4 linked regions of the Homo sapiens genome follow. The protein of the gene in region 2 purifies or fractionates together with the protein of the main gene of each other region. This does not show direct contact. Each region holds a gene or a part of one and is shown on either strand. Other genes may lie near its edges.

Evidence for each region.
Region 1: the proteins of SLC22A12 (region 2) and PPP1R12A purify together in Homo sapiens (affinity purification with mass spectrometry; one large-scale study listed by BioGRID and IntAct). This does not show direct contact.
Region 3: the proteins of SLC22A12 (region 2) and SPECC1L purify together in Homo sapiens (affinity purification with mass spectrometry; one large-scale study listed by BioGRID and IntAct). This does not show direct contact.
Region 4: the proteins of SLC22A12 (region 2) and MYO5A purify together in Homo sapiens (affinity purification with mass spectrometry; one large-scale study listed by BioGRID and IntAct). This does not show direct contact.

Annotation. Positions count from the first base shown.
Region 1 is NC_000012.12:79,925,169-79,934,160, reverse strand, and holds part of PPP1R12A (protein phosphatase 1 regulatory subunit 12A), read left to right. Parts: intron 1-8,992. UniProt on the Homo sapiens protein: Key regulator of protein phosphatase 1C (PPP1C). Mediates binding to myosin. As part of the PPP1C complex, involved in dephosphorylation of PLK1. Capable of inhibiting HIF1AN-dependent suppression of HIF1A activity.
Region 2 is NC_000011.10:64,594,067-64,603,058, reverse strand, and holds the end of SLC22A12 (solute carrier family 22 member 12), read right to left. Parts: intron 4,544-8,992; coding exon 4,420-4,543; intron 4,252-4,419; coding exon 4,136-4,251; intron 3,384-4,135; coding exon 3,169-3,383; intron 2,693-3,168; coding exon 2,584-2,692; intron 2,325-2,583; coding exon 2,121-2,324; intron 1,572-2,120; coding exon 1,508-1,571; 3' UTR 715-1,507; downstream 1-714. UniProt on the Homo sapiens protein: Electroneutral antiporter that translocates urate across the apical membrane of proximal tubular cells in exchange for monovalent organic or inorganic anions. Involved in renal reabsorption of urate and helps maintaining blood levels of uric acid.
Region 3 is NC_000022.11:24,416,035-24,421,646, reverse strand, and holds the end of SPECC1L (cytospin-A), read right to left. Parts: 3' UTR 3,909-5,612; downstream 1-3,908. UniProt on the Homo sapiens protein: Involved in cytokinesis and spindle organization. May play a role in actin cytoskeleton organization and microtubule stabilization and hence required for proper cell adhesion and migration.
Region 4 is NC_000015.10:52,311,478-52,320,469, forward strand, and holds part of MYO5A (unconventional myosin-Va), read right to left. Parts: intron 7,866-8,992; coding exon 7,583-7,865; intron 5,746-7,582; coding exon 5,571-5,745; intron 2,727-5,570; coding exon 2,646-2,726; intron 2,372-2,645; coding exon 2,219-2,371; 3' UTR 1-2,218. UniProt on the Homo sapiens protein: Processive actin-based motor that can move in large steps approximating the 36-nm pseudo-repeat of the actin filament. Can hydrolyze ATP in the presence of actin, which is essential for its function as a motor protein. Involved in melanosome transport.

The sequences.
Region 1 (8,992 bases), on a different chromosome or scaffold from region 2:
AACGAACGATTTCCTGTTTTCTCATTTATTACTCTTGGTCACTGGGGAGGGGAAAACAGGGTGTAATTAGCTGATCTGCACCGGCTGAAAGGAAGGGGATGGAAGTGGGTAGAGTAAGGAAGCCCTCTAAAGGGCTTGCCCACCTCCGGACCGGAACGTGTTGAGTCTGATACTCGAAGTTTGCCGCAGTGTCAGAGATCCTTGAGCCCCAGGTCCTCGGGTGTGCACTGGTGTTAGAAAGAGAAGAATAAATAGGGGACACTCTTTTCAAAGCCGGTTACCAAGCTCTGGTTTTTCTTTTGGGGTTGGGAAAAAAGAAAGCTGGTCACAAACTTTTCTCAAAATGGATGCTTTGTGCATATTAAAGTTTTATAGTAGTCTGATTGGGATCTCTCAATGTTAGCCAAATAAGGAGAAACTATTGGCAATCCAGAGATAATGTTGCCTTGCCTTTAACAGGCCAAAAGCAACACAACCACGTAGAGTTATGCATAAAAAGCAATTTTTAAGTGACGGTAATAGGTGACAAAACATAGGCTTTTTCTATTTTCTTAGCGGGCAACTTGGAATAACTGTAATAGAAAATGACTTTGCAGCGATAGCTTCCCCTTAACAATGAAAAGACTTGTAAGCTATCTCAAAGTTGCCTTGGTTGTGTGTGGAAGATGCATAGCCTTATTTTGAATAATGTTGTAGTAAAAACTTGTTTGGGAGGTTGAAACTCAAGGCTTTATATTTCATGAATATTAACTTGATGCCTTTTAAAAAAAAGGTGTGTAGTGACATTTTTCCTTGTCCTGCTTACTGTTTAAGGGAGTGATGACCATTTTAAATTTTGTGTAATGGAATTCTCTTATCAGACTTGGAGTATAGCCTTTGTTTACAAAGTTGACTGGATATATTGAAATGATTGACACATTGCAGGACAAATATGGAATTAAAAATGTGGCACCCAGTAAAAATATAGCAGGGTGTCTAGCGCTTTCTCAATTTCATTAATTTAGATTCTCTAATGCATAGCAAACTTTTTATTTGGGTGAAGTTTATTTAAGGCATATCATAACTCGTAAAATTTTAAAACCATGGTGTTGAGAATGAAGGAAACTTTTGGCATTAAAAATGATAATGTAATTATATAAGATGAATCTTCAAATTTCTTTCAAGTGTACTTTACACGTTTTAGTGTGAAACAGATTTTGAAAGACGATTATTACTGTAGGAGGTCAGGATAATTGGATAATGGTTCGCATCAATATGTTTTATTCAAATTGTCAAATAGAAATTTAAAGTTACTATTGTTGTGGAGGAACCCAGTTGTATTGGCTTAGAGGAAGACGAAAAGTTTTGATATTTACATTATTGTGATACTGGTTTAGGGAGGAAGAGAAAATACATTTAACTGCCTTCTTAAGATCTTTTTTTCTCCTCTCAATATTCACACGTTACAAGAATTGTCAGACTTACCAATGTCTTCCTGATTAACTGAATTCAGTGGTCAGTTTGGTGTTGTGTAGATATATCTTTATTGGGTATTTTGTTTTAGTTGACAAACAGAAGTTTCTAAATTTACTCCATTTGCGTAATATCTTTCTGTCACTTTTTGTCACTGTGAGTGTGGGTTTGACCCGATAATCTCCAACCGCCTCCCCTTTTCCATAACATTTTTCCATATCTGCAAATGCCTTAAATCGGTGAAGCCAAAGTCTTTAAAATATCAAGCATTAAAAATTTGTGTTATGTTTTCTTCACTCTCATTTCTTATTTATCAACTCTTGTACTTTTTTCCCATTGTTACTATGAAAACAGGGAGTTCACTTTGGGCAAATTTAGGACAACAGTTAGTGAAAGACAATAAATAAAATTAAAAACCACACACACACAAGAAAATTTTAAGCCTTTAAGAAATCTCTTGAACTTAGCTTGTTTTCCATACTTAATTGTAAAAACTAAAATCACTGATTTAATAGTCCTTGAATAGTTCTTTAAAACTTTAACCTCTCAAAAGATCGTAGAATACCTAAAATGTATAACGGGGTTAATTGTTGATTGTTTTTTGAATATTCATTTACTTTCTGGTTTTGATCAAGTGTTCTAAATTTCATTGTCAAGAGAAAAGTTTTAGGAACATCACAACCCACAAATATGCTTTTGAAAATCGAATATTTTGCTTTTACTTTAAAGAGCTTATATTTAAAGGTTTATTAATTTGTTGAATGTGCTACCTCATTAGAAGTTATAAAAGATATCCAGTCTTCAGCTGTTCTTTTTGTATAGAAATGTGTCCTCTGTATAGAAGAAAAAGCAGCGTTTCTTGTCAAATTTCCTATCTTAGTCTCCAGAGTAGCCTTTCTCCCCCACCCACTCTACCCAGGACCTGACCCCCAAAGCTACAAAACAGCACAAAGTTAACCATAGATACAAATTTCTGGTTTTTCTAGAACCGAGGTCTAGAGTAGAATTTCATTATTACCAATGGGGCAATAATCAGCTTCTGATTTTATAGCTACCTGGTAGAGTTTTACAGTATGTGATTATATCTCTATTTTAGCATATTTTGTAAAGATTTAAGGAGATTAATAAAGTTATATATAGAATGCCTTATTGCTGATTCTTACTGATACTGGTGTGCATAAAATACAGGGCTGAGATTTTTCTCCAGCAGTTTTGAGTTTAGCCTGTTGATTTTAGCCTTAAAATCTTTTCTTTTTCCTCTGTGCCAGTGACTTCCAAGTCAGTTTACAGTTCCCTCATTTCTGCAAAGCTCCAAGCCTCATTTCCATTTTTTGGGGTTATGTATTGATTTGAAATGAAATATTAAATGTATTGTAATTTTATATTTAATAATGTCTTTTAAGTAGTAATATAGTAAATACAAGTTCACCCCCTTTGCCATAGAATGGCAACTACTGTATTCACGTTAACCTTTGTGATTTCTTCAAAGGATTTCTTATTGTTCAAATATAGATTTTCATAGTTGCAATTCAGTATTATAATTTTACGTTTATCCGTTAACATTAGAGATACTTATCTTTAGACTTTACCAGCATCCTTTTTAACTAATTATTTTAAAAGTATTATTAATTTGGTGGTAAGACAATTTTACATCGTCAGGAATTTCTTTAAATTCAACCTAAAACAGGTCTATCTTTCTTCATCAAGTCTACTCTTCTCATTGATGTTCCTGTTTCTGTTAATGATGTATTAATCTTTAGAATCAAGTTAAACATTTTAGTTATTGTTTACTCATTCCCCTTGTCTATGCATAATCCAGTCTGTCTTCTAGCTCAGTCTTTTCTTTACAATTACCTTGGCATCAGTTCTTTTCTTTGCCACTTTTTACTGGCAACCTAGTTCATACCTTTATTATTTTATTTTATTTTATTTTTTTGAGATGGAGTTTTGCTCTTGTTGCCCAGGCTGGAGTGCAATGGCGCTATCTTGGCTCACTGAAACCTCCACCTCCCGGATTCGAGCGATTCTCCTGGCTCAGCTTCCCAAGTAGCTGGGATTACAGACGTGTGCCACCATGCCCAGCTAATTTTGTATTTTTAGTAGAGATGCGGTTTCTCTATGTTGATCAGACTGGTCTCGAACTCCTGACCTCAGGTGATCCACCTGCCTCGGCCTCCCAAAGTGCTGGGATTACAGGCGTGAGCCACCGCACCTAGCCTTATTTTTATCCCTAGAGTATAGTAATAGCTTAATTGTTTTTCCTGCCTCTATTCTCTCCCTTATTTAATCTAGCATGCATATTGCTGTCATATTAATCTTTGAACAGTATCATTTTGATGGTGTTATTCCTCTCTCTAAATTTGGATATAGTACATTTTATCATTTAGCTTATGGTTGATACATCTCCATTGTGTTGTATCCTTTATAGAAATTGGTTAACTTGCTTACGTTTCAACTAGATCTTTACATTTTTTATTTCCATGCCTTTAGCCATGCCTTTTATCCTCTCTCCCTCGTTTGCCAATTAAAATTCTAGTCATTGTTCAAGATTCACATTCTCTTTTCTGGGGTGTTCACTGTACCTTATATTCTGCCTCTCCTGCAATAAAAACACTTTTTACTGAATAGTGTTTGTGTTTGTCTTCCCTTGTAGCCTCTGAGGACCTAATCTTCCACAATTTTTGTATTTCCAGAGCCTAGCACATAGTAGATGCTCACTAAAGGTTTATTGAATTTTTATCTTTTTACCTCATCAATAGGAAGTTTTAGAGTTATTTTTATGTTGTGAGATATATTTTTGAAACCTTCGCATCAGATACTTAGCGTATTGTTCTTGCACATAATGGAATTTGTGTGATTATGAAACAAATTAAAAACTTTGTTGTAGATTTCAATATATTTTAATATCTTGAGATTTTAAAAAAATCTTTTTTTTTTTTTGAGATGGAGTCTCATTCTGTCACCCAGGCTGGAGTGCAGTGGTGTAATCTTGGCTTACTGCAAACTCCGCCGCCCAGGTTCAAGTGATTCTCCTGCCACAGCCTCCCAAGTAGCTGGGATTACGGGTGCGTGGCACCATGCCTGGCTAATTTTTTTTGTATTTTTGGTAGAGATGGGGTTTCACCATGTTGGCCAGGCTCATTTCGAACTCCTGACCTCAAGTGATCCGCCCGTCTTGGCCTCCCAAAGTGCTAGGATTACAGGTGTGAGCCACTGTGGCCGGCCTAAAAAATTCTTAATATCGACCTCCTTTCTATTAAATTTTAAAGCAGTCTAGATATTGGTTAAGTGGTAGAAAAATATTATATCCAGTTGAGTCACTAATTAATTACTCACTTTGTAAGAGTCTGAGCTAGATCCTCTAGAGCGGGGGTTCACAAACGCTGGGCCGTGGACAGGTCGATCCACGACCTGTGAGGAACAAGGCCACACAGCAGGAGGTGAGCGACACACTGGCAAGCTAGCATTACTGCCTGAAATCCACCTCTTGTCAGATCAGCAGCGGCATTAGATTCCCATAGGAGTGCGGACCCTATTGTGAACTGCGCTTCTGAGGTATCTAGGTTGTGTGCTCTTTATGAGCATCTAATTCCTGATGATGATGTGAGGTAGAACAGTTTCATCCGGCCCCACTCCCCAACCCACATCTGTGGAAAAATTGTCATTCACAAAACTAGTTCCTGATGCCAAGGTTGGGTACCACTTCTAGAGGAATACAAAGTAGAATTAGTTCCATGTTCTATGCTATTAGAATTTTAAAATAGTTTTTCTTTTACTTTCCAAAACAGACAGACTTACAGATAGGTTTAATATGAAATCCTTTTGCTTTTAAAATACAAATTTGATCTACTTCTAAGGGAGCCATTTTAAGCATCTTTGTAAAATATGTGATCCTCTCGTCAGTAAAGGGAATACTTTTGTGTAGTCTTCTTAAGATGTGAAGTGTAAAAGAGACTGGAAGCAATTAATTTTGAGTTGCTTGTTAGCAAATAGTTTGATTACTATGTAAAATCTGAATTAAGAGTTTATAGTTTGTAACTGTTTACCCTTTTTTTGATGGAGAATGTTAAGATCTTGGAAGAACCTACTGGATAACTTTTAAAGAGCATTAAAATTTGTGTCTAAAAGAATGTGCAGTGTAAAATATTTCTCTGCATAGTTTTCTTTTTAGAAAAGCTGTAACACTTTATGCTCATGCCTTTCAAAAGTTTTTATTGAAATCATCCTAAATCCATTTTTAAAAACCTACCTAAACAAACAAATAAAACCCTCCCAACCCCAAACTGGCCCCTCACTTCCTACAAATAAGTGGGCAACCCTAGCCATATATGGGGTGTGCTGGTAGGGCACCAGTGCCCACACTGCTGCTGTTCTAATGCTTTTTCTGTAGTTGCTGCCTCTGTGCTTCCTGGCAACACTTTTGTGGTCTGACTTTGAGGTGTCATAACCAAGACCATCTTTCATGTGCCTCAGCTACAGTATGATTGCAAGCTGTGACTGAGCATTTTCTATAGCCAGGTAGAAACACTGGATGGAATAGAGGAAGTGTTTTTCATCATCCATTTGTTATTACCACATTTAAAAATTACAGTTCACATAAGAAAAGTGTTTTAAAAATCTTATTAGATGATTTTTAAAAGAAAACTATTTAAAAACCTTTTAATAGGGGGAGGCATAAAACGTTGTTTTGTTACTACCATAACATGTTACTTCTTGACACTATATGAAGTTGCTATTTTCATTGCCTCTGCCTGCAAAAAATTGCCATCTTTTACTCCACCCTTCTTTTGAAAGTTTGTGGGGCTCCACAATAAGGTTGAGAAGATGATGAGGTATTGGCATTTTGGTATACCTCTTTGAAAGGTTGAAGAACTCCAACAATTATAAGTTTATTCTCAGTTGGAGTCAGATATGTAGTAGCCATGACTTAATCAGTGTTTTATTGAGGAGCAGTGCTTTTCCAAACAATAGTTTAATTTTCACAACATGCTTTTTCACTTGCTCAAAGTTAACAAGAAAATAAATGGCAGAGCTGGAATTCTTATGCAGGTCTGTTTGATGCCGAAACTCAAACTTTACCCTATGCCAGGTATCTTCTTTGAAGTCTGAAGAAGAAAATATTCTTAAATCTTTTCATCATTATGGTGGTGTTTAGTAATTGGAGGTTTCTCTGTAAATTAGCTGAAAATCAAGTGAAACACACATATAATTTTTTTCTTCATCCACATTTGTTTTAGCTAGCCCATACTTTTAAGACCTTTCTATGGTAATTGAAGTGCAGTAGTACTGTATCTAAATTAATCTCAGAATTCGAAATTGTCCTAAATTTTAGGAAGTGCCAAGATTATTTTTGACTTACCATTATGTGCAGAATATATCAGCAGCAACAAGAAACACTCCTTTTTTCAGGACATAGAATTTAATTTTTAACTACCTTTATTTTTCTTTACCCTAATAGCAATTTATATCGTTTCAGTTGTTGGGTGTGTGTGTGGGTGTGGTGTGTGTATGTGTGTTTTGAGACAGGGTGACAGACTCTGTCACCATGGCTGGAGTGCAGTGGCATGAACATAGTTCACTGTAGCCTTCCTGGGCTCAAGTGATCCTCCCACCTCAGCCTCCCGATCAGCTGGGAATACAGGCATGTGCCACCACTTCCAGCTAATTTTTTTTTTTCTTTGACAGAGTCTCCCCGTGTTGCCCAAGCTAGTCTCAAACTTCTGGGCCCAAGTGATCCTCCCACCTCAGCCTCCCAAAGTGCTGGGATTACAGGCGTGAGCCACTGCACTTAGCCTGTTTTAGTTTTTTTTAATCATTTACAGTAAATTTTTTATACATACGTACATGTACATATTTGATTCTTTTTAGAGACAAATTGTAGGAAACTTCATACCATGGATACTGGGGGTGGGGGGGAAGAAGTCCCTTATATACCCTTAAGGTAGGGACTTTGATTCTTTTTTTCTTTAAATCTCCTTTTGTATCGGCATTTTGTTTTAGTAGGTACACAATAAATATTTAATGATTAAAAAAAATTGGACACAATGTAAACTAATATTTTGAAGAGCAGAATTCATAGAATATTAAATAATTGGGTAAGTGTAACACACTGACAAACTTTTAAAATGTCCTAATAAAAAAGCTTATATCAACCACTTACTTTTATAATACTTACAATGTAAAGGTAGCCATTATTACAATCAAAACATTTATTAGGTGGCTGGGTATGGTGGCTCACGCCTGTAGTCCTAGCACTTTGGGAGGCCTAGGCAGGCGGATCACCTGAGCTCAGGAATTTGAGATCAACCTGGCCAACATGGCAAAACCCCATCTCTACTAAAAATACAAAATAAAAATTAGCCAGGCATGGTGGCGCATGCCTGTAATCCCAGCTACTCAGGAGGCTGAGGCACGAGAATCGCCTGAACCCAAGAGGCAGAGGTTGGAGTGAACTGAGATCATGCCTCTTCACTCCAGCCTGGGCGACAGAGCGAGATTCTGTCTTAAAGAAAAAAATTATTGGGATGTTAGATTTATTTTTGAAATGAGATCTATTACTGATTATCAATAGACGCTTCAGTTTATGTAACTTAGTTTAAAAATTCTTTAAACAAATCCTTGAGTGTTCATTTAGAAAAGTAATCTCTAGGCTGGATGCAGTGGCTCACACCTGTAATCCCAGCACTTTGAGAAGCCAAGGCAAGAGACTTGATCCCAGAAGTTCAAGACCAGCCTGGGCAATATAGGGAGACGGTGTCTCTACCAATAAAGAGAAAAGAAAAGAAAGAAAAAGAAAAGAAATCTCTAGCATGGTAATATTAGAAATAATGCATATTTTCTGTTATTTTACTGATACTTTTTTTTTCCAAATAACATTTTTACTATGGCTCCCTCTATGTCAGTATTTTCTGACCTTATTAGTGTTTTGGTTGTTTATCTTTGCATTGTTATGCTGGCTAACCATAAAAAGACACGCTTGAGTTCTGTGTTACTGCCCTAAGTGTGCTTGCTGCTCAACTCAAATGCTCTTTCATGGGAGGAGACATTCCACATTGTCATGTGTTGTATAGGCATTTCTGAAATGACATTCAGTAGAAACCATGGAAAGAAGTGAAAGCATTCCTCAGCTGTCACTTTTTTAGTAGTCTATTTAAATGTTATGTATATTAAGTGAGATATTCTGCAGAGAGAGCTTCACTTAATAAAAAGCTTTACTTTAACTTGATGATTTAACTCACATTTGAGCTGAAATTACTATTTTCTTAGTTTAACATGACCTCTAACAATAAAATCATAAGATTGTACAAAGCTCATGTCATTTTCTTGAATACTGCATAGTGCAGAGGAGAATACATTTTGTGAGATGTCACTTGGCACCCTCTTAAAGATTAATAACCATGTGGGAAAGTATATTTTCATGGACTGTTACACACACACACACACACACGTACACGTATGCACTCAACCTTTACTTGTAATAAACATCCCAAATTATATATATTTTATTAGCCTTCAAAATTGTTTTAGATGGTTATAAACT
Region 2 (8,992 bases):
CCCATATGTGTGCATGTGCATGTGGGCACATGTGTGCACACACGGCTAATGTGTGTGTAGGGGTGGTAGGGCACTGCCCTCGGCCAAGGTGCCTGGAAGCAGCAAGGCAGGCACAGGTGGACCCAGAGACCATCTGAGCATGGCCCCAGGGTGGCTCAGGTGACTGGGCTGGCTGGCTGGGACCCGGCTGGGCAGCAAATGGCTTCTACCTGCACCCAGACCTCTGTGTGCGCTGCACTGCGTTTCCCCGCGAGCCATGCCTGTGGACACTGTGGGCCCCTGGCCTTGCCGCTGCCAGGAGAGTTACTGGACACCCAGATGGTGAGGCTGGGTTGGGAGAGGCTGGGGCTGTTGTGGCCAGAGTGGGGCTCTGGAGGCCTACTGATGGGTTTGAATCCTGATACTGCCCCCACCTAGCTGAGTGTCATGGGCAATCAGGTTCTTCAAGCCTCAGTTTTTTCATCTGTAAAATGGGGCAATGTTTGCCCTACAGGATTCAGGAAAAAGTGAAGTGAGATGATGCTTTGAGGTGTCCAGCACAGCACCGGGCCCACAACAGGCGCTGGAAACAGCAGCCACTCTGGCCTGGCACCTGGGGCAGGCAAGCTGGCCTGGGAAAGACCCACCCCAGAAAGCAGCCCCCAGCACTTTCCTCCTTCCCCCGACCCGGGAGGACCCTGGGGGCTCATCACTTGAGTCAGTGAGGGGCAGCCATTCATTTGTTTCTTTATTCAATCCCTCGCACCAATGCCTCTCTGGCCCAGCGCTGTGTGGGGAGCTGGGACATGGGGTCATGGGACTGCCCCAACCCTCTGGGAACTCATAGGCTGGCAGGGTGGGAGGAGGCAGGCTTGTGGCTGTAACTGTGGGTAGGAGTTTCACGGGCATCTCAGGCTGGCCCTGGACCCCTGGAAGGGGGGCTGGGTTTGGGGGTTAAGTGGAGTCGGTCAGGGATGAGGGTGGGAAGGGGACAGCAGGCAGAGGATGTGGCGGGCAGGTGGCTGAGGCCTGGAGGGACATGGGGAGGGGCCAGGGGCCAGGCTTACAGGGCTTCTGGGTAAAGCTGTGGAGCTGAGACTCTACTGCTTGTGTGGAGCTAGGAGAGGTCTTGACCATGGATGGTGGTTAGCTCTGAGCTCTGGGCAGGTGGACGGGTGTGGGGGGACAAGTGGCAGTGCGGAGTCAAGCAGAGGGTTGGCAAGGCCAGCTCGTTCCCCTGGGCCTGACCCCTCTGCTCTCCGAAGCCACGAGGGCAGGGCAGGGTGATGGTGCACTGGGTCACCTCCTGCCAATCAAACTGTCCTTTTCCCCTTCAGTATTGAAGGGGGCCCCTTGGACTGTGAGAGGGGCAGGGCTCACCTGGAGGGGCAGCCCTGGGGGAGAGTGGGGACCTCAGAGGGCAGCCTCTGGGCCTCTGGAAATGGAGGTCTTTGCTTTCCTCCTGCCTTCTCCAGAGAACAGAAGAAGTCTCTTCCTCTGACCGTCCCATCGCAGGTTCCCCAGGAGGCTAAAACTGTGTGGATTTTAGGACAGAGTTCCCCAGCGTGCCATGTGTTGCCTTCTTTACTGCCCTGTTCAGGAAGCACACGGGGGTGTGTCTTGGGGTGCGGAGTGGCCCCTGACCCTTGACCTGTGTCCATCCCAAGGACTCCAGGGAATGCCACCACCCTGCTCTCGGGGGCCCAGAACTGAGCTCCCGAGCATGTGATGGGTTGGGGGTGTGTGTGAAGTGACTGCCCTGCCAGCCATCAGGGCTTTAGAGGTAGAATCTGGGGCCTGCGAGGGCCCCCAACAATGGCTGGATCTCCCTCTCACAAAGGACTATCCACTCTTCTCCCTTTGGCCTCTCTCAGGGTGGACCTGGGGGAGCTTGTCCATTTGTGCCTTGAATGGTGGAGTGAAAGGCAGAGGACAAAGCCCTAGGTCAAAGCACTGCCAGCCGGAGACTGAGCCCTGGGTTGCCACTCTCCCAGAGATGTACTGTGTGACTCTGGGCCAATCCTATCTGTCTGGGCCTCTGCTTCCGCCTCTGTCAAGTGATGGGGATGGGTGAGCAGGCTGCCCTGTGCTAGGGTTCTCTGGTGGGAGGGAGGGGTGGTCCCGAGGCTGGGTCCACTCACTGGTTCTGCACATCTTGGATGGTGTCGGGCAGCGGCAAGCTCTGGGTCTCGGGCAGAAGCAGTGCGGCCAGGCCACTCAGCACTGGCACCGTCCCATACACCAGCAAGGGCAGCCAGGGGCCATGGACACCCAGCAGCCGGACCAGAGGCCCCAGGATGGCTCCTCCACGGGCTGCCATCTGGCCCAAGCCCACTGCCGTCATCCTGCCAATGCAGATGCACCTATAAGCGCCTGGTCTGTGTGCCCACAGCCTTGATCCTGCACGCCGGGCCAGGCCCGCTTGGCCCAGGGAGACCCAGGGGGTCAGGCTGGGCTTGGGATGCACCTGAGCAGCCCCGGGGACCACACAAGAGGGAGATGCATGACATGAACATCTAGGTCTGGGAGAAGCCAGTCCTGCCTGGGGGTGCCCCGCAGCTCAGCCCAGGGCTCCCCTCTCCTGGAGCCCAGGCCCAGCCTCACCTGAGCACAGTGGGGAAGAGCTCGCTGCTGTAGATGGTGATGCAGGTGAAGGCAGCCCCCACCCCGCCCAGCCCCAGCACGGCCAAGGCTGAGCGCAGAGCCCCCATTTCTGTGGGTAGAGATGGGATTAGTGAGCTTGGTGGGGGGCCCAAGATCAGATGAGGGCTCCCTTCAGCCCAGGGGGCTTGTCCCTGACTTTCAGGCCTCTTTGTAAATGTTTGGGAGTCATCTCCATCTGGGTATCCTGTCCTGAGTGGCCTCATGGCCACACCCACAATCTGCTCCACGCTCAGACACCCAGAGCCAGCCCCGAGGAGTCCTTCTTGACCCCGTTTCCCTCCTCCTGCAATCCATCACTTAGTTCTCATTTTAACTCCACACTTTTCCCTGGTGCCACCCATGCCACTCCTTCACCGCTCTTGCTGGCTCAGTGCAGACACTGCCGTCTGTCCCTAGACGGCTCCGGCAGCCTCCTTCCTACCAGGGTACCTGCTCTAGTCCAGCACCTCCAAGGAGGGGTGCTGTTCCCAGCCCGAGACCCCCCCAAGGTAGGGAAGTCTCTGGTGTACAGCTTTGCCCCCTCACCGTGGGGCACCAGCGTGTTGGCCAGAATGCAGAGCCCTGCCAGCAACAGGGATGCGGCCAGCGTGGGGCGGCGGCCCAGGTGGCTCAGCAGCAGCAGGGCGCCCATCTTGGCTGGGATGTCCACGACACCAATGAACATTTGGAGCAGGAAGATGTTGCTGCCCAGGGCCTGCAGGTCCAGGGCCAGGCCGAAGAAGGTGAAGCCAAAGGCGAACCTGGGGCAGGGGTCAGGGAAGTCAGGGTGGGGGTGGGGGGTGGGGGGGGGTGGTGGGCAGGGTGGGAACAATGGGCGGTGGGGGCTCAGGGTGGGGGTGTGCTGCTCTTAGCTCAGTGTTCTGGCCCTTCAGCTGCCAGCTCTGTGGGGCGGGGCCAGTCTCTAGACTATGTTTATCAGGTCCCCTTGCCAGCATGGCTTCCCTTTGGGTTTGGCTGATGGGAGGTGCTGGCAAGAGGTTGGAGGAGGGGAGAAGCAGGGGATTTCTGCCTCCCTCTCTGCTTGGGGGCTTTGTCTGGGAGTGACTATGTCCCTTCCGTGGCTCCAGCTGCCACTGAACAGTCCTTCCCTCCTTGGCCTTGGCGGTTTTGGTCTTTGCTGGATGGCCATGGGTCCTGGGCTCTGATAAGCCCTCTCCGCCCTCCCTGGCCCCACACCAGGCAGGGGTGCTTGCGGCCCATGCTGTTGCCTGGATCACCCCTTCGTCATGCCTGGCTCCCAGCCCTCCCAGGAGCTTTGTTAGGGATCCTACCTACTGCATCTCTTTTATCTGCCTTGCCCCTTATTAAGGCCCCCTCAGTGAGCCCACCCGGCCTGGGTTGTCTCCTGTCGGGAGTGACTGACAGAGGGGAAGGTGTCGGTGTTGCAGGCCAGTGGGACCAAGCGGAGCCAGCAGAGGCCGGGGCCGTGTGCCAGCGAGAGCCCCGATTCCAGGTTCCCCTGTGGAGGTGGGGTTGGGGGAAGGGCATCTACCAGCACAACGTGGAGATACAGGTCCGGAAGCGCAGTCCGGGCATGCGGAGCAGGGTGCCCAGGCTGGCAGGAGGCTGGCCCATGCTCAGCTCCTCCCGCATGGCTGAAAGCAAGACCTGTGGAGGCGGGGGTGGGTGCTGTTGGCACTGGGGGCGCCAGGCACCTCCTCCTCTCTGAGACCTTCTTCCCAGGGAGCTGAGGTCCTTGGTGGGTCTCCCAGGGTGCCCTATGCAGGGGCAGGGAGAGGGTCTGAGGGTCCGGGTTTGAGGAGGACCCAGCCTTACCTCAGGGGTCAGGGTGTCCTGCACTGCCCCCTTTCCGTTGATGGCAGCCACCCTCCACAGCTCCTGCAGGCCCCAATCCAGCCTGCCTGTGGTGAGGAGCCATCGTGCCGACTCTGCCAGCCACCTTAAGTGGAGGGGGCGTGGGAGGGGTCATTGCCTGTGGCCCCCAGTGCCTGGCCTGCGCCAGCCTCAGACTGCTACCCTGTACCCACTGCTCCAGGCCCAAGGCTTAGGGCGGCTGAGGACCCCGAAGGGCGTTGTGGCAGCCAAGCCCTCTTGGGCACCCTCCTTCCCCAGCAGGAGACCCCTTCTGCTGCCTTTCTCCCTCCTAGGGATTGTGGTTGGGATGCTGTTCTCATCCTGGGGCTGGCTGCTGGGATGGAGGGAGGGATGACTCTGTGGAACCCTTCCTGCCTCCCTCCAGACCCCACAGCCCTTCCCCTGCCTCGCTAGGAACCCGGCCTGGTTGCAGTCAGGGCCCCTAGGGCTACAGGACCACTGGATCCTGGCCACTGCCAGGACCTTGGCCATCTCCAAGGCGACTGGGGTCCACCCCTGTCCTGGCACCTCCCATACCACATGGCCTTCCTGTCCACCCCATGGCTGCATCTTCCTCCTGCAAACAGCTTCACAGCCACCCCGGGGCTCAGGCTGGGACCAGGGTCCCCAACAGCACCAGCGCCCTCTGGCCGCACCCTGTCAGCTGATTCCCACACCTCCAGGACCCCTCGCACCTGAGTCTCTGCTATCTCGGCCTCATGAGCCCAGCACCTCCCCTCCTTGTGGCAGGACCCAGCCCCTCACACTGACCTGTCTCCCACTACCCTCAGTGTCAAACCGAGCTTATGCCACACCGTCCCGCCCCGCCTGCTGAGCGCCTGCCATGCCCACCACTCTACACGGGGCCTGCCTCTAGGCCTTGGCTCCTGCAGGTCCTTCAGCCAGACGTGTTGTCCCCTATGAGCAGCCAGGGTGGGGCCACCTGCCCTACACCCACCGGGGCCCTGAGCTCCTTAGGGATTTGCAGAACAGAGGGGAGAAGTGGAGATTCCAGGTGCATATTAGAGATAGAGCTGATGAAGCCTGGTGACCCAGTGGACTTGGTGGGGGGATGGTGAGGGAGAGAGAGGCGTCATGGCCACTGTGACTCTGGTGAGTTCAGGGGCTGCTCCCCACGCTGGGGAAGACTTGGGGAGGAGAGGTCTAAGGAGATGTGTGTGGGGATGAGACACCTATAATGGAACCGTCACGTGGGCAGTTGGAGGTGTAAGGCTGGAGGTCAGTGGGGGAGGCAGGACCAAGTGGAGATTTGGGGTCTGCAGTATTTGGAGGGAGCTGGGGCTGCAGGCAGGGGTGAGGCTGCCTGAGGGAGAGAGTGTGGACTGTGCCCGCCACATAGCAGGTACCACAAGTGATGGTGGCCAGATCATTGTGGGTGACCCTGGGAAGGGCAGTTTGGGCGGAGAAGAGGGAGAAAGCTGACTGGAATGTGTTGTAAGTGACTGGGAGGGAGAAAGCGGGGTCCCATTCTCAGATGTCAATACCCCAGGTTGTTCGTCAAGCCCTAAGCACAGTTTGTGAGGCCACGATGTGTGGGATTCCCTATGAGCTCCACGTGGGCAGAGACCACATATCTGCTCATAGCTGGTGTCAGCCAGCGCCTGGCACATGGTAGGTGCTCAGTAGTTATTTGTTGAATGAATGAAGTAATGAATGAATGAATGGGCACTTCTTCAGCCCTGTGGGAGCACGTCTACCAAGGAAAGGGGGGTGCAGCTCTGTGGCCCTGCATCAGCATGAGAACCAGGAGGGGTGCCTTGGAATTTTTATCACTGACCTTTACCTTCCACTCTCTACCCTCTTGGTGTTGGGAGTCAAGCTGCCATCCCAGAAGGCTCTTGTCGGACACGATTGCCTCCTTGTGGAGCCACTGTATGAGATGTAATTTTCTCCTGCTCTGAGGAGTGGCTGCAAATTGTTACTCCACTCCAAGCTGTTGGGTGGGAGAGATTTGTGGACTCAGCCTTCTTCTTAGTGTGGGTGCGGGCACCTGCTCACCACTGGGCCTCTGCTGTGCTCCTTTCTACAGTGGTCCCAATGACCAAACAACTACTAAGTGCAGGGCCTGTGTATGAATGATCCAGGCTCAGCCCTGCCCTCAAATGGCCTCCGTCCATCCATCTATCCATTCATCCATCCAGTTCATCCAATTAATCCACCTATCCATCCATTCAACCATCCATCCAACCATCCATCCATCCATTCCATCCATCCATCCATCCATTCATCCATCCATCCACCCATCCATCCATCCATCCATTCAACCATCCATTCAACCATCCATTCAGCCATCCATCCATCCATCCATCCATCCATCCATCCATCCATCCATTCCATCCATCCATCCATCCATGCATCCATCCATTCAACTATCCATTCGACCATCCATCCATCCATCCATTCCATCTATTCCAACTATCCATCAATCCATCCATCCATCCCATCCATCCATCAATTCCATTCATCCATCCATTCCATCCATCCATCCATTCAACCATCAAACCATCCATCCATCCATCCATCTATCCATTCCATCTATTCCAACCATCCATCCATTCCATCCATCCATCCATCCATCCATCCATTCCATCTATTCCAACCATCCATCCATTCCATCCATCCATCCATCCATCCATCCATCCATCCATCCATCCATCTTTTCCAACCATCTATCCATTCATCTATTCCAACCATCCATCCATCCATTCCATCCATTCAACTATCCATCCATCCATCCATCCATCCATTCAACCGTCCATCCATCCATCTATTCCAATCATCTATCCATCCATCCATTCATCCATTCCAACCATCCATCCATCCATCTATTCCAACCATCCATCCATCCGTCTATTCCAACCATCCATCCATCCATCCATCTATTCCAACCATCCATCCATCCATCTATTACAACCATCCATCCTTTCATTCCACCCATTCAACCATCCATCCATCTATCCATCCATTCAACCATCCATCCATCCATCCCTCCTTCCATTCCATCCATCCATCCATTCCAACCATCCATCCATCCATCCATTCCAACCATCCATCCATCCATTCATTCCAACCATCCATCCATCCATTCCATCCATCCATCCATCTATTCCAAACATCCATCCATTCCATCCATCCATCATCCATCCATCCATCTATTCCAAACATCCATCCATCCATCCGTCCGTCCATCCATCCATCCATCCATCCATCCATCCATCCATCCATCCATTCAACCATCCATTCAACCATCCATCCATCCATCCATCCATCCATCCATCCATCCATCCAACCATCCATTCAACCATCCATCCATCCATCCATCCATTCCATCCATCCATCCATCCATCCATCCATCCATCCATCCATCTATTCCAAACATCCATCCATCCGTCCATCCATCCATCCATCCATCCATCCAACCATCCATTCAACCATCCATTCAACCATCCATCCATCCATCCATCCATCCATCCATCCATCCATCCTTTCCATCTATCCATCTATCCATCCATCCATCCATCCATCCATCCACCCATCCATCCATCCATCTATTCCAACCATCCATCCATCCATCCATCCATCCATCCATCCACCCATCCATCCATCCATCTATTCCAACCATCCATCCATCCATCCATCCAACCATCCATTCAACAATCCATCCATCCATTCCATCCATCCATCCATTCCATCCATCCATCCATTCCAACCATCCATCCATCCATTCCATCTGTCCATCCATCCGTCCGTCCATCCACCCATCCATCCATCCATTCATCCATCCATCCATTTATTCCAACTATCCATTCATCCATCCATCCATCCATCCATCCAACCGTCCGTCCGTCTGTCCGTCCATCCATCCATCCATCCATCCATCCATCCATCCATCCATCCGTCCATCCATCTATTCCAACCATCCATCCATCTATCCATCCATTCAACCATCCATTCAATTCATCTATACAATCCAATCCATCTATCCACCAACTCACCCATCCACTCATCCAATCCACACATCTGTCAACCCATTTATTTATCTGTCTCTATCTATCTACCTACCTACCTACCTACCTACCTACCTACCTACCTATCTATCTATTTCTACTTACCTAACAATTCATCCATTCAACAAATATTTATTTAGCACCTACTATGTGCCAGGTGCTCGGCAAGGGCCACGCCTGATTTGTTTCAGGGCAGTGCTGACATTTCCTAACCTCCCACACATGCCGGCCCTCTGTGGGGACTGTGGACTCCCCTCTGATGAGTGGATCCTGGTCCCTGTCTTCCAGCAGACAGACACAAGCATTGATTCTGTCAGCCCATGAAGCAGACTGCGGCTGTGCGCTGTGTGTGCGGGCATGTGTTGTATCTTTCCACTCGCTCCCCTAGCCTAGCTCAGTGCTGCCATGCCTGGCACACACAGAGGAGGGGCTCAGAAGATGGGCCTGGCAGCATAGATGCCAAGGCAGGCAGGGACAGGAGAGGAGAATAGGCCAAGAGATGAGGA
Region 3 (5,612 bases), on a different chromosome or scaffold from region 2:
ACCGCCCTGGGACCAGCGGCAGGGGCTTCCCTGCAGACCTTCCAGGACCCATATCCTCACCTGTAAAATGAGTATCTTGTGTCTGCCCTGCCCCCTCCTGGAGGTTAAGTCAAACCACAAGGTAGGGGTGAGGGATGCTGACGGCCATGGGGCCCTCCCTTGGCCCCATCCTTGGCCCCCCCATCCTTGCTTCTGGGGCTCTCCACGAGGTAAAACCTCTCCTCTAGTGGGGACAAACCCCTCCCGCCCACACCTGCTGGACCCAGATTCATTCAAGCCCTTACTCAGCAAACATGCACGGAGCGTCCTGAGTCTTCCTGAGGGGCTCAGGGGGCTCACGAGGCAGAAACCAGCCCTCAGCCGATTCTGAGGGTCTGTCTCGTCCCCCAGTGTGGACCCCAATGACTCCTCTGCCATTCCCATCCTGGGGCCCGCAACCTTCCTGCGTGGACCTTCCCATGCATGGTCTAGCCATGTGCACCCCAGTCCCACAGCAGGAGGGTTGCAGCCGCAACGTCCTCACGCAGGGAGTGATGGCTTTGTTCCAAAGCTGGTCCTCAGGGTCACAGTGCCAAAGCCCTTAACATTCACCTCTAGGGCTCAAGGGGCAGTTCCTCCATTCCTCAGCAGTGGCGCCGGTGGAACTGTGTCCTGAGGCCAGGGGGTGGTCAGGCAGGGCCTGGAGTGGCTCCAGCCCCAGAGCCAGCTCCACAGTCCCCACAGCCACCCATGAGGAGCCAGTGCCAAGGAGGCTGTGATGGGCCGGCTCAGGCCAGGCCCCCACCCTTCCCCTACTGGGCTCCTCCCTGGCCCTTCAGAGGCAGAGAGCCCCGCGGTCCTGTGTCATCTGTCAGGTGCTTTGGCCCAGGTCTCCAGCGCTGCCATTGCCCAGAGACGGCACAGGCCAAGCTGTCCAGTTCAGGGATGGGGAACGGCACCTGGCAGGGCTGTCCCCAAACTGCCTGCCCCACAAGCCAGCTTGTCTTCTCCAGGGAGGGGCCTGTGTTCTCGGCACCACGTGCCTTAAGGCCACCTCCTCAGTCTTGGCCTTGCTGCCCCCTTGCCAGCCCCGTACCCACCTCAGCTGAGTGCTGTCCTCAGATACCAAGGCTGTGGGGCTGGGGGAGGTCCCTGTGCAGGTGCCTGGGCTGCCCGCCTCCCCCACCCCCAGGCCCAAGGGAGCAACAAGGCTGAGGGGCAGAAGCTCTCCAATTGCAACCACTGCCCTTTGGTGGGCACGGGGAGGCCCCTGGCAGGCCCCAGCTTCTGGCTCCAGGCGTTGGTTTCCCTGCCCAGCCCCAGGCAGGCTTTGAAAAGGCTGTGGGCGCCCACCCTTCCTTCCATCCAGGCTCCAGATCCTCAGGCCCGGCGGCGGCGGGGCCAGCTGGGCCTCCCCAGCTCCAGGATTCCGGCCCTTTGTTCCTGCCCAGGATGCACCTGGTGGCCTCTGGCCCTCATTGTTTGCTCTGAGGCCAGCTGAGCTGCATCAGGAGCAAGACATGCCAGGCCCAGGACAAGCAGCCAGTGAGCAGGGGAAGGGTCCCTGGAAACCAACTGGGTCACCCTGGGTGCTCCCCAACTTCTCCAATGGGGCAGGGACCTCACAAGGCTCCAGTTTATCCTAACAGAGGTCCTGCAAAGGCAGAAGAAACATACGGAGGAAGTGATCTCCGAGTCACTGGTCATCATCCTCCAACTCACCCCACCCCACTCAAGATGTTCACCCCATATCTGCTTCTGGGTGTCAGGACAAACAGCAACCCGCTAGCAACCCGGCCTTGGGGATGATCGGCGTAGATGTGAAAGCAGGCCCTGAGGGGAGTGGAGCCCTGGCTCCAGCGTGGGCAGTGACAGTCCTCTGCAGCCCTCATGCCGGGGCTTGCCACTCATCACCCCGATGGCTCTAAGCCACCTGCCCGCTCTCCCTGTGGCCCCAGCCCCATGACCTGCCAGGACTGTACCCCATGTCAGAGTGCCTGATATGAGGGCCCAGAAGGGGGCCCTGCTTTGCAGAGGTGGAAACAAGCCCAGCACATCCCAAGTGTCGGTGGCTGACCTGGGGAGGACCTGTGTGTCCCGACTCCTCAGTGCTCTTCCTGGCAGAAGTCTTGGGTGCAACCCAGCCCTGCGATGGCCTGTCCTTCCCCTCAGGGCACACCTGCTTCCTGCCTGGTGGGTGCCTGCCTTGGCCCTTCTTTTCTGCTTGGCCCTTAAGACTGCAGACCCCCTGCCACCCCTTCCTCACAAACACGGGAGGGTGCAGACAAAAGACCAGACCTTTCAGCACCTGCTCTGGGCCTGGTGCAGTCAACTGGCAAGCTGTGCCCGGTCTCTCCGCACCCCTCCCCCTGCCTCACAGCAGGCTCCCCGAGGCACTCCCAGCCTGAGAGGGCTGGTCAGGTGGAGTCCTCTCCTGTCAGGCAGGAGAGATGGAGTCCTCTCTTGTGCCCGGCCCAGCTCCTGTAGATGCCCAGTAAGGTCCAGACCTGTTGGGGTCAAAGCTCCTGCCAGAATCCAGATCCCCGAATCTCAGCAACCCAGGAGTCTGTCCTCACTCACCTGATGTACGGGGAAGTGGCTGCGAGCATGTTGAGACTGGTTCTGTCTGCCCCGGTCCCTCACCTAAGGGACAACCTAAAATAGAACCCAGGCTACCCCGAGGTTGCACGAAGTGCCGGCCCCGTGGGGCTGGGGCCATAGAGCTGGCCAGGCAGGGCTGCTGGGGCAGGGCGTGGCGTCTGGGCACAGGACCGCAGGCCCTTGAGGGTGCTGGAGGGGTGTAAGGGATCCTTCTGGAATCTCTCCACTCTCCCTGGAATCTCTCCACTCTCCCTGGAATCTCACAGCTTCCCCCTTCCACCTATTAAGCTGTCCCTGAGATCCTGGAACTTTGAGTCAAGGTATAAACGATGCCCTCCCCATAGGTGCTGCCCTGGGAAGCAGCAGAGCCAGCTCCAAATTGAGGGGCACAGCACTGTGGACGGGCCCCGCAGGCCCGTAACTTGGGACAGAAGGATCCCCTCAGGGCCACCCTAATCAGCATCCAAGGCAGCTGCACTGCAGGCGGGACGGATGGAGGATCTGGGAGTGACCGCCCCACCTGGGAGTGGTGGCTAAGGGGTCTGTGCTGCCCAGGACAAGGCCCAGGTGCGCTGGCAGGGACGGCAGTCCCCTGCTGACGTGTGGAGGCCGCTGCACACAGGGCCCGCCCGGCAGGCTCCATGGATGCTTGCTGACCACTAGGGCAGAACCCCTTCCGCACAGCAGAGGACACAACGAAGGGGCTGCTGAGCAGGGAGGAGCTGAGTCCAAGCCCAGTCCTGCCCCAGTCCTTTCACGCCCAGCTCCCAGCTCTACAGCTGTTGCCCACTGCCCACCCCAGGGTACCTGCAGCTGTTGGCACCCAGGGGTGCAGCTCCCAAGCACTTGCAGGTCACAGTGCAACTCCTGGCTTACTCAGGGCCAAGGCAGTTGCTGGGCTCCCAACCCTGAGGAGTCTCCACCTGGGAAGGGCATTCACTACATGCCCTCGTGTGCAGGAAGCACCACCACCATGGGCCTTTTGCATGTGACGTGGACAAGGTGGTAAGTGTTCTCCAGGCCAGCTCAGTGCATTCACAATCACTGTAGTGACTCACACCTGTAATCCCAAGGCTCTGGGAGGCCAAGGCGAGAGGATTGCTTCAGCCCAGAAGTGCAAGACCAGCTTGGGCAACATGGCGAAAAGCCCATTTCTACCAAAAAAAAAAAAAGAAAAAATAAATAAACAAACTGCTGGAGATGGTGGCACACACCTGTGGTCCCAGCTACTCAGGAGGCTGAGGTGGGAGGATTGCTGGAGCCCTGGAGGTTAAGGCTGTGGTGAGCCGTGATCGACCCCGTCTCGAAAAAACCAACAAAAAACAATGCACAGGCAAAAAAGTTTATCTGGTTGCCTCTGGGTAGGATACCTTTTTTCTTTTTCTCTATTTTATACATCCTGACAATTATTTCCAAGATGATACATGCCTCAAAACAAACAAAACCCCTCGAGACACACTCCCCAGCCCCCAGGGAAGGCATGTGTCTGGGCTGTGTAGGGGCTTCCGCTCTCCTGGGGGTAGCTCTGCCACGGTCTCTGGGGTCTTGGCATCTGTCACAGAACCCTAGTGGTTACAGGGCTCACTGTCCCACAGCCCCAGGCCACACGGTGATGTGCTGTGGCCCAGGGGAGGCCACCCTGGACTCCTGGTCAGGATCTGCCCACATGAGGAAGTGCGCCTTGGGGTAGGGCCACAGGCTGGCTCAGAGGTGCCCTTCTCTCCACAGCCAGTCCCAGGAGGGAGCTGGGTTCTGGTTTATGCGACGTCAGAGGGACGGCAGGGAGTGGAGGGCAAGCTAGAAAAGCCCAAGCTTGTTGTTTCAGCCATTTTAATACATTCAAGAATATTTACTAGAACAACATTTAAACGTATCGTCGGTCCGCAGAAGCCTGGGATCGAGAGAAATAGAAACGCGACTGGCCCTTTTGCAGTAAAGCTTGTGCTTGAAGGGAGAAGAGGCAAAGTGGCTTCTTGGAGACTTCGTGCCAGATGCCACAGGACTGAGAGCATCTCCAAATGTCACTTTAAACACGTGTGAGCATCTATAGTCATTCCTAAAGCCCACAGTGTCCTAAGGATCCTATTAGACGAGGCAAAAGGCAATGCTTCTGGAACCCTCTCCCTTGCAGCTCTGCACGCAAACCTTCCCCAAGGAGGGGCCCGAGGCAAGCCTCTAGATAGGCGGGGCCAAGCCCTCCCCGTGCCCACCCTCTTTCCCTGTTGCTGACCTCAGGCCTGATGCTGGACCCATGAGACTCCCAGAGGGAAAACACAGATACAGCCCATCCATCCATGGCCACCTTCCTCCAGAAGATCCTGGGGACCCCTACCCCCCCATCCCATGAGGCACCAGGGCTGGGCTCGCATGGCCAGCAAGGGATAAAGTTGGGAACTGCAGACCAGGGGAAGCCCCCTCATTCTTAGGGCAAAACAGCCCCTGAAGGACAAAATAAATAAACCAAACCATGACCAGACAGCTGGATCCGGACAGGTGGAGTGGCCTCTGTGAAGGCAAATGAGAGCAAAAGTGGGAACTGAGGACACCTAAGTGGAGAGACACTTAAAAACAGTAATTCTCACATGAACATCAGTGGCTCATGCCAACAGCAGAGCTGGCCATCAACAGAGGAACAGCAACAAAAACACAACTCAGACAGGGGGCGGGACGGGGCCAGGAGTCTGCGGGGGTCTCTGATATGCTTTGTGGCATGACTTTGCTTGCCTGGCCTCTCCTTTCTTAGCTGAAAACAGGCATTTCACCAAAGGGCATCCAGCCAGCGGCAGCAGCCTGAGCTCCCAGGCTGACATCTGGGCAGGGCTGATGGGCAGCTTCTGGCCATCTGGTGACCAGGTGTGCCGCCAGCTGCACCCACATGCACAGCCCCTTTCCTAATAACCACATTCTAGGTTACGTAGACACGTTAAACTCCTATTCTAGAACATCGTGCTTGAATGCAGACCCCTCAGCCCACAATCGGGCTGGCTGGGCCTCCTGTGAGCCCCTCATTGCATCCAGTCTGTGGGGCAGTG
Region 4 (8,992 bases), on a different chromosome or scaffold from region 2:
TGGTTGATACTGCAAATAAATAAATAAATGTATTCAAACTGAATAAAGCAATACATGATGTAATAAAAATTACTTAAACTAATTATAATACAAATATAGTAGGACCTTCTAAAAGCATGTACATAAATCATGTACATTTAAGAAAGGTTACAGCTACACAAACTTGTGATTTTACATTTGATTAATCCTAAGGAATTGACAGGCACTACACACTGGTCTTTCCATCAGAGAATGGACTTACTGAGTAACTGCAGCTTTTTCTCTCTAGAATCTAAGGGCTGAGAAGAGAGAATTTTAAATGTGGAGGAGATGTTAAGAATCAGTGTCCAACTCTCTTATTTTATAAACGAGGAACTTGAGGCCCATGTAAATTAACAGACAGTATTTATCTTTTAATAACAATCTTTATCACTGATATGAAGCTGTTTGACTTCCATAAATATTGCACATATTTTAATAAGATTTATAGACCATCTAACAGTTAAATTTATATAACCTATGATTGTAATTCAGAACCAGAGTTTCTAATGAAAACTAATAATTTGCTTTTGTGCAACCTGAAGGATTTATTGTATAAGATTCCTAAGAAAAATGGTGAATATGTTTAACTAGAATTTCAGAATGAAAACTTACAGAATCTGGGTCTTAATGAACCAAATCCTCTGTAAAATTCAACAATCTTCTATTTCTTATATAAGTCTTCTTAAAGTATTTCTAATATGATGCTTTTAAAATTATCTAGTGGCATCTGAGAACACTTATAGAAGCTGCAAAGCCTTAAAAACTGAATCATAATGAAATATTTATTATATACCTTCTTTTGCATAATCAAAGTTTCAAGACCTGAATCGTGAATATTCTGACAATCCTCTCTAGATAGTGAGTGAGATTCTTTTTTTTTCCAAGGCAGTGTCTCTCTCTGTCACCCAGGCTGGAGTGCAGTGGTTCGATCTCATTGCAATCTCCGCCTCCCAGGTTTAATCGATTCTCGTGCCTCAGCCTCCCGAGTAGCTGGGATTACAGGCAAGTGCCACCACGCCCGGCTAATTTTTGTATTTTTAGTAGAGACAGGGTTTCGCCATGTTGGCCAGGCTGGTCTCCAACTCCTAACCTGAAGTGATCCGCCCACCTTGGCTTCCCAAAGTGCTGGGATTACAGGCGTGAGCCACCGCGCCCAGCCGAGATTAATTCTTAATAAATTAAGAAGAGAGAAAACCTGTCAAGGTTGAAAATATGCACTGAAGGAATCAGATCTGGTAGTTAAAAATAAGTCACTTCACAGAACACTGTACCCTGACGCAATATCCACCCAGGGAAAATTAATGAGCACATCAATGTAATACATCCTGAATAAATAATGACATCAACAATAGCCACTTTGTCTAATCCTACCCCTAAATGTCAAGCATTTTGTCATATTACTACATGACTTTCCAGTGTCTGCTACTTGTGCAGGTGAATCTGTAGGTATTTGCATATAATCCAGTTAAAACTGTGATCTGATTGAATTGTAAACAGAATTGACAAGAGAAACTTATTGTAGTGCCTAATATCACTTACATTTTAAGAAGACAGTATGTAGCAGCAATTTAAAATGCTCAGTAAACTATAGTACAAATGGACATCTATACTATTTAGCAAACCAACATTCCTTTAATATCTCTATATCATAGTGACACAAATGAGGAATTACTTTACATATTGCCAGTTTATTTCTTTGAACCAGTTTAACAATATCAACATAATTGATTACTAAACTGACATGATATGTACTCAATGGAGACTTTTCTTTCCATTCTCCTGTTTAGTGCAGAGGAGGTTCTTTGGTGCCTTCCTAACAACAGCTCATCTATGGAAGTTATACTTTTTATACCATTCAAACTCAGTGCTAAGGATTTAAAATAAATGCTGCCAGCTGAAGACACATTTTTCTCCTCCTTTCCTTCCTCCCTTCCTTCCATCATTCTCCTGTATGTAAACTCACGGTACCTAGTTGGTTAAGGATGAGTGTTGCTATAAAGATAACACAGCACGAAAGAGCCTATCTTTGTTTCCAAAGTGATGAAAGTATTCTAGGGAGATTTCCAGTTAATGACTTCTCATTTGGGAGATAATCAGTACTTTCTCTTTAAAAATGTATTTTCAGTAACTCACTGGAAATAATGGGTTCTTATTTCGGGCAAGAAATGTATTGTCAATTTTTGCCTGGACATCACTTTCAGACCCGTGAAATGAAGCCCAGGCCGAGGCTGGCTGGAATCTGGATGGTTTCTAGTGCGAGGGAAGATGGGTTGAAAGGAAAGGTGACAGGAAAGATGTGTTTAGCATCCATGAGCAGCTGGGGAGAGTCTTTCCTGTCTCGTAAACGCATCTGAGAAGATTAGGAAAAAAAATAAACAGAGCATCAGTTCTTTGAATCTAAAAGACTTTTTTCTACTAAAATTTCTACCCTCAAATTCTCAACTAATGAAGAATGTTTACTTTTGTTTTAAACTCACTTCATTTTCCCAATTAACTATTATCAAAAAAGTTAGTGCATTGTAAAATAAGATAATAAAAGATAACACATTATCCTTCAATAAATTACAAAATGTCCATTCAAAAGACTGTGTTGGTGAATCAAAGAAGAAGATGGGAGCTCTTACCTGTATAGTACGAATGAACGACACAGAGACTCTTTCTTCAAACTCATTAACTGGAGTATACAAATTCAACACTTTCACAATCTGTGAGAAATGAAATGATCAAAGTTTTTGGCATATTATCAAATACACACTGGGTACCTATAATCTGGAAAATTAAAAGGATCTGTGCGTACAGATTTCAGTTCTACTCAGGGGTGGGCTGGGACCAGAAGGAAGGAGGAGCTGGTCTGCACATTTACCTTTATCTGAATTTTTACAAGAGAATGTATCAATGTAATGTTTGTGTAATATTGTAAGAAGCTGTGTAAATTTCGAAGATATTCAAATAGCACAAGAGAATAAAACATGAAAAATAAATGTCCGCACTTCCATCCTTCCAGTCTCCCAAAGTGGCAATTGTTAACCATGTCCTGAACACCCCCTCTAGCTGCTATAAATATTCTAGTTCATTTTATTTTTATACAAATGGGATTCATTCTATTAATACTATTCTGCAACTTTTCTCCATATAAAAATGTTAGCCGTATTAATACAATTATCTCTTTTGAATGTTTTTTAAATCATATTTTTATAAAAGATCATAAATAACATGAATAACAAAAGCCCCTAAAGAAATTAATCAATTAGAGAGTATGAAGTTCTTTTTTAAAAAGTTCAATAATTTTTTTTTGTAAAATGGTCATGTCTCTTTTCTAATGAAAATAAATCATCGTCTATATAAGGTAGATATTTCCATTTTCAAGGTATTGTCTAAACCTGTGCTGTCCAATACAACAGTAGTAGTCACTAGCCACATGTGGCTATTAACACAAAATGAAAATAAAAGTTGAATGCAGGACAGTGCTGATCTATAGGAAAATAAATTAAGCACCAGAGAACTAGAAAGTGGGCATGTTGTTATCAGGTCTGTGGGTGACAAACTGAATTAGGGATCAGTCTCTCGGAGGCAAGTATTTGAATTTTAAAAAGTGGGACCACTTTGTTAACTAATATTTGCTAAATAAATAAACTGCAGGTCTGCCTCACTCTGTGAAATATGCTTAAAGTATATTTAAGTATTAAAGTATATTCTTTAGAAGTTGAATGGCAGCCAACTTCTATAAAGTTGGGCTTCCTCCAGGGTATTCTTACTTTCCACACTTGCAGAAACTGGGAGGAAATCTCAGGACCATTGTTCTGTCAGATAGTTCTGCTTTATTCTTAGTAAGAAGTTATGCAAACATGAATTCAACATTAAGAAGCTGCAAGTCTTGATTCTGATTGTCTACTGATTGACTTTTTTTTTTTTTGAGATGAAGTCTCTGTGCAGTGGCACAATCTTGGCTCACTGCCACTTCTGCCTCCCAGGTTCAAGTCATTCTCCTGCCTCAGCCTCCCAAGTAGCTGGGATTACAGGCACCCGCCACAATGCCTGGCTAATTTTTGTATTTTTGTAGAGATGGGGTTTCACCATGTTGGCCTGGCTGGTCTTGAACTCCTGACCTCAGGTGATCTGTCTGCCTCAGCCTCCCAAAGTGCTGGGATTACAGGTGTGAGCCAGCACGCCTGGCCTACTGATTTTTTCTGTTGCCCAGGCTGGAGTGCAGTGGTGCAATCTTGGCTCACTGCAACCTCCGTCTCCCAGGTTCCAGCAATTCTCCTGCCTCAGCCTCCAGAGTAGCTGGGATTACAGGTGCCTGCCACCATGCCCGGCTAATTTTTGTATTTTTAGTAGAGATGGGGTTTCACCATGTTGGTCAGGCTGGTCTCAAACTGATTGAGTTTTAATTGTATTGGGCAAAACTGAAAATTTCATATGTTGTAGGATATATGATGAACATTAAGAAAGTTGGCTGGGCACTGTGGCTCACGCCTGTAATCCCAACACTTTGGGAGGCTGAGGCGGGTGGATCATGAGGTCAGGAGATCGAGACCATCCTGGTTAACATGGTGAAACCCCATCTTTACTAAAAATACAAAAAATTAGCCAGGCGTGGTGGCAGGTGCCTGTAGTCCCAGCTACTCCAGAGGCTGAGGCAGGAGAATGGCGTGAACCTGGGAGGGGGAGCTTGCAGTGAGTGGAGATCATACCACTGCACTCCAACCTGGGCGACACAGCGAGACTCCGTCACAAAAAAAAAAAAAAAAAAAAAAAAAGAAAGAAAGTCTAAGAGTCAGCACAGAAAATAACCGGGCAAAAGAAAATTGGGCATGTTCATGCCTGTGCCTTGCTTCATGCTGTCACTATAATCCTCAAATGCCCTTCTCATTCTTCCACTTCCTTAAATTCAATGCCCAGATTAATGGGACCTTCCCTGAATACTGCTATCTTCCCTCAGTACTTCCTTTAGGCATCTTACTACAGAATTTGCTAGAACCTCTACGGTAGAGTCAGTTGGATACGACTCTGTCTTCCCTACTGAACTGTAAGCTCCTTGAAGGCAGGAATTTTTCCTTATTTATTGAAGCATCTTCCCCAGCAATAAATATGGTGCCTTGAGATGGAGGCTTAATTAATCATCTGTTGAAGTAACAAGAATTATCTGTCTCTAAAAACAAAGTCACTATTTGATAATCCACTCAATTATCAAATAAGATAGAAAGCTATTTTATGGAATATAAGCTGCATAGACTGTATACTCCATGAGAGCAGAGACTTTGTTTTGCCTATGGGTGTATCCCAGTGCCTTCAATGTTATATAGAACACTGTAAGTACTCAATAAATATTTGCTGAATATTAAATATATTTATACTGTAATTAGCACTGAAATGTATTAATTTCTGGCAAAATCTCCTTGCTTTAAGATTGGTAGAGGCATATATCTTCTTGAACACAGATGAAGTCAGCTCAGAGATACAAGCAATAAGTAGAGGACTTCTTTACTTCCCTAAAGATCATCTTTGATGAATGTTAAATTATTTTGTAACAGGGAAAGTTGCTCTACCTGGGCAGTAGTTAAAGCATTGCACATAGAACAAATGGCTTCTGCATCATCATCTGTTTTCTTTTTCACTTGCAAAAGTTGAGCAGCCTGAATGAGAGGTTCCAGGGTTTCTTTAGCCCCACTATTCATCAGATTCTTGTCACGCAGCCATTCTTCCAGTTGACTGACATTGTACCTATGAAAAAAAAGAGATACAGAGAATGCAAATTTGCTGAATTTTGTCAAAAATGTCTTAATTTTTTTGTGTGCGGCCTTGTCAGGATTTATGTTAAAATGACAGGCAGTATTTTTGTTCAATTTTCTTAAATCTCATCAGCTGTGCTTAAAAATTTATTATAGTCATGAGGATTATAATCACCATTATATAAGACTAAATGACAAGATAATGTAATTCTCTTTAATGGAAGATGGAAATGAAGTCATTATGGCAAAAGTTATTAGACTTGCTAATAAACAAAATAGAATAACATAATGTAGCTCTGTCTTTATTGGGGAGCTGGCCAGAAAACACTTTGTAGCTTCTCTTACAATTTCAGAGCTGGGTTGCTGTTGCAGGGTGAGACTTGATAATCCTTGAAGCACTCTCTCTTAAGGCAAACTCCAAATCAGGTAACTGAATAACCAAAAGCCCCACATATACCTGTGCTGAAGCCTTAAGGGAAGAGCCTAGGAGATGAAGATGGTGGCCTGAGAAAGCTCCGGGATGAAAGGAGAGAGAGGCAAGGGAGGGCCACTGGAAGAGACAAAGACTCCAAATGGTGACAGAGACAAACTACAAAGACATTGTAGGTTTCACAAAATAGCCAACCAAGTGGCAGCAGTCCTAAGACTGAGGTCAATAGACACACAATCAGCACTTAGCAACCAGGCAAATAGGGGCCAGCATAATATTGCGACAGGTGGCTCCACATTTCCATGCAGAGCTTATAGAGAAATATGCTCCACTATCTGAGAGGAAGGCATTATTGTCTTAAAATTCACTACACTTCAATGTAAGTCAGGATGGAAAATTTGAAAAGAACACTAACAGTTCCTGAGATTGAGTAACTACTAAGACTTTGATAGGAGAAATCATTTTTCCCTCCTCTTGGTGAATATTCTAGCTGTTTTAAAATAAAAAATTTGTGGCCCAGCACGGTGGCTCACACCTGTAATCCCAGCATTTTGGGAGGCCGAGACAGGTGGATCACCTGAGGTCAGGAGTTTGAGACCATCCTGGCCAACATGGTGAAACCCTGTCTCTACAAAAAATACAAAAATTAGCTGGGTGTGGTGGTGCATGCCTGTAATCCCAGCTACTTGGGAGGCTGAGGCAGGAGAATTGCTTCAACCCAGGAGGCAGAGGTTGCAGTGAGCCGAGATGGCGCCATTGCACTCCAGCCTGGGCAACAAGAGCAAAACTCCATCTCAAAAAAAAAAAAAAAAAAAAAAATTTGCAAAAAAATTATGTTACAATAATGAGGTTATGCTGAGGAGTATTGGGCATAAAATTAAGTGCAGCTTTTCTTAAAATATAGAGGGGGGATATTTTAAGAATTAGTAAAAGATCTATCAGACCTGTTCTTGTTGCCATAGGTACAAAAAGGTATTTTTCCAAAAATATATTTCTAAGAGCAATCAAACATTAGAAATCTTCATTATTATAATTTAATAATTTCTTATTGTATAATTAAAACACACACATAAGGAGAGGAAGCAGCTATCTCATCTTTGTGTATTTTTGCATCATCTCTTCACTCCCCCAAATAAGCAAGCTTCACAGTGGAAAAGGGTTTCCTATCAAGAATGTGAAGAACCTGTTGGCAGGGTACAGACAGGGAGCAATAATGAGATGTGGTGAAATCCAGCCAGGCAAGGGAAAGTGGCTCCGTGCCAGTTTCTCCCTTGCTGCTTGGCCACATGGCACCAGACATGAGATGCAAGAACTGAAAACAAGTCATCAGCTCTCCACAACCCTGGCAGGCCAGCTGGGCAGCAAAAAGACACTGTCGCAGGTGTTGGCATTTGCTCACCTGATCTGCATGCCTTTACTCCAGGAGCACATGTCCTTCCGCAGGAGAAGGTTGTTCAGGGTGATGGCCCCTATGATGTAGAACATCTGCTTGACCACCTGCTTGATCAGTTCAGGGTCCATGCCATGCTGACACATGACCGAGTGGAAGGAGTTGAGCTGCCGGAGGATGGAGTCCAGTGTGTAGGTGCCCTCATCGGCGATACTGGAGGTTCGCTTTCTCAACCCTGTGGGCTTCACCCCAGACACGCCCTGAATCGTTTCATGTTCCAGCATGCCTGAGACTGCAGGAGTATTTCAATTGTTAGAGGAGATGATGTGGAAGGGAACCTTTCATGTGCACATATCCATGTGCACAAACACATGCACATTCAACTTAGGAAAATTAGCTGGGCACGGTGGCTCACATCTGTAATCCCAGCACTTTGGGAGGCCGCCGAGGTGGGTGGATCACTGGAGGCCAGGAGTTCAAGACCAGCCTGGCCAACATAAGGAAACCCCGTCTCTATTGAAAATACAAAAATTAGCCAGGCGTGGTAGCGTGTGCCTGTAATCCCAGCTACTCAGAAGGCTGAGGCAGGACAATCACTTGAACTTGGGAGGCAAAGGCTGCAGTGAGCTGAGACCACATATCTGGGCTCCAGGCTGGGTGACAGAGAGAGACTCCATTTCAAAAAAGAAAAAAATGATCTGGGTGCCAAAATAGAGGGAAAAGGAACTTCACTACAAAAGGGCTTCCGGATTTTAAACTTTACTGAAGGAATAATTCTTAATTGCAAAAATTTACTATGAATCTAAGTAAACTTAATGGTGTCTTTTCTAAAATAAGAAGCGTTAAGAAGCAGTAGCCTTGTGATAGAACAAGTGTGTGTGTCTTGGGTGGGCTTTTGAGAGTGGTAGGTAGCAGTTCGGGTTAAGATAAGCATTCTCCATGTTATCTGAGCCCCAGAGGCAAAAACAGTAAGAAAAGCAGGGCACTGACAACCATCTTGGAGAAAACGTGGGAGAGGGGAGTGGTATGGGTCTGGAGAGCTGGGCCCTTCCTTATTCTGGGTTTCCCACAACAGCAGTGGGCCCTTGGGCTGACCTCCATCTCCCAGAATTCGTCTTCTCACCTGTGGCCCGGCTGCTTCCCTGTTGTGCTCTCTTAGCATTTGGCTTATGCCTCCCTTAGAATGTTTCTGAGATGTCCACTCCCTGACAGCAAGCCCCTTGAGAGCAAAGGCCACGTCTGGTTCATCTTGCTATTTAATTGTGCTAAACACAGATTCCCTAGAACCGGCATGTTTGTTGTTGCTGTTAAATGACTGGGAGATGGGGGTAAGGATTTAGATTGGGGCTTCTTTGAGGCGAACTTCTTATTCAGCCAATAGAAACAGGCAAAGCAATAGAAAAACTGGCTGAAGTTGAC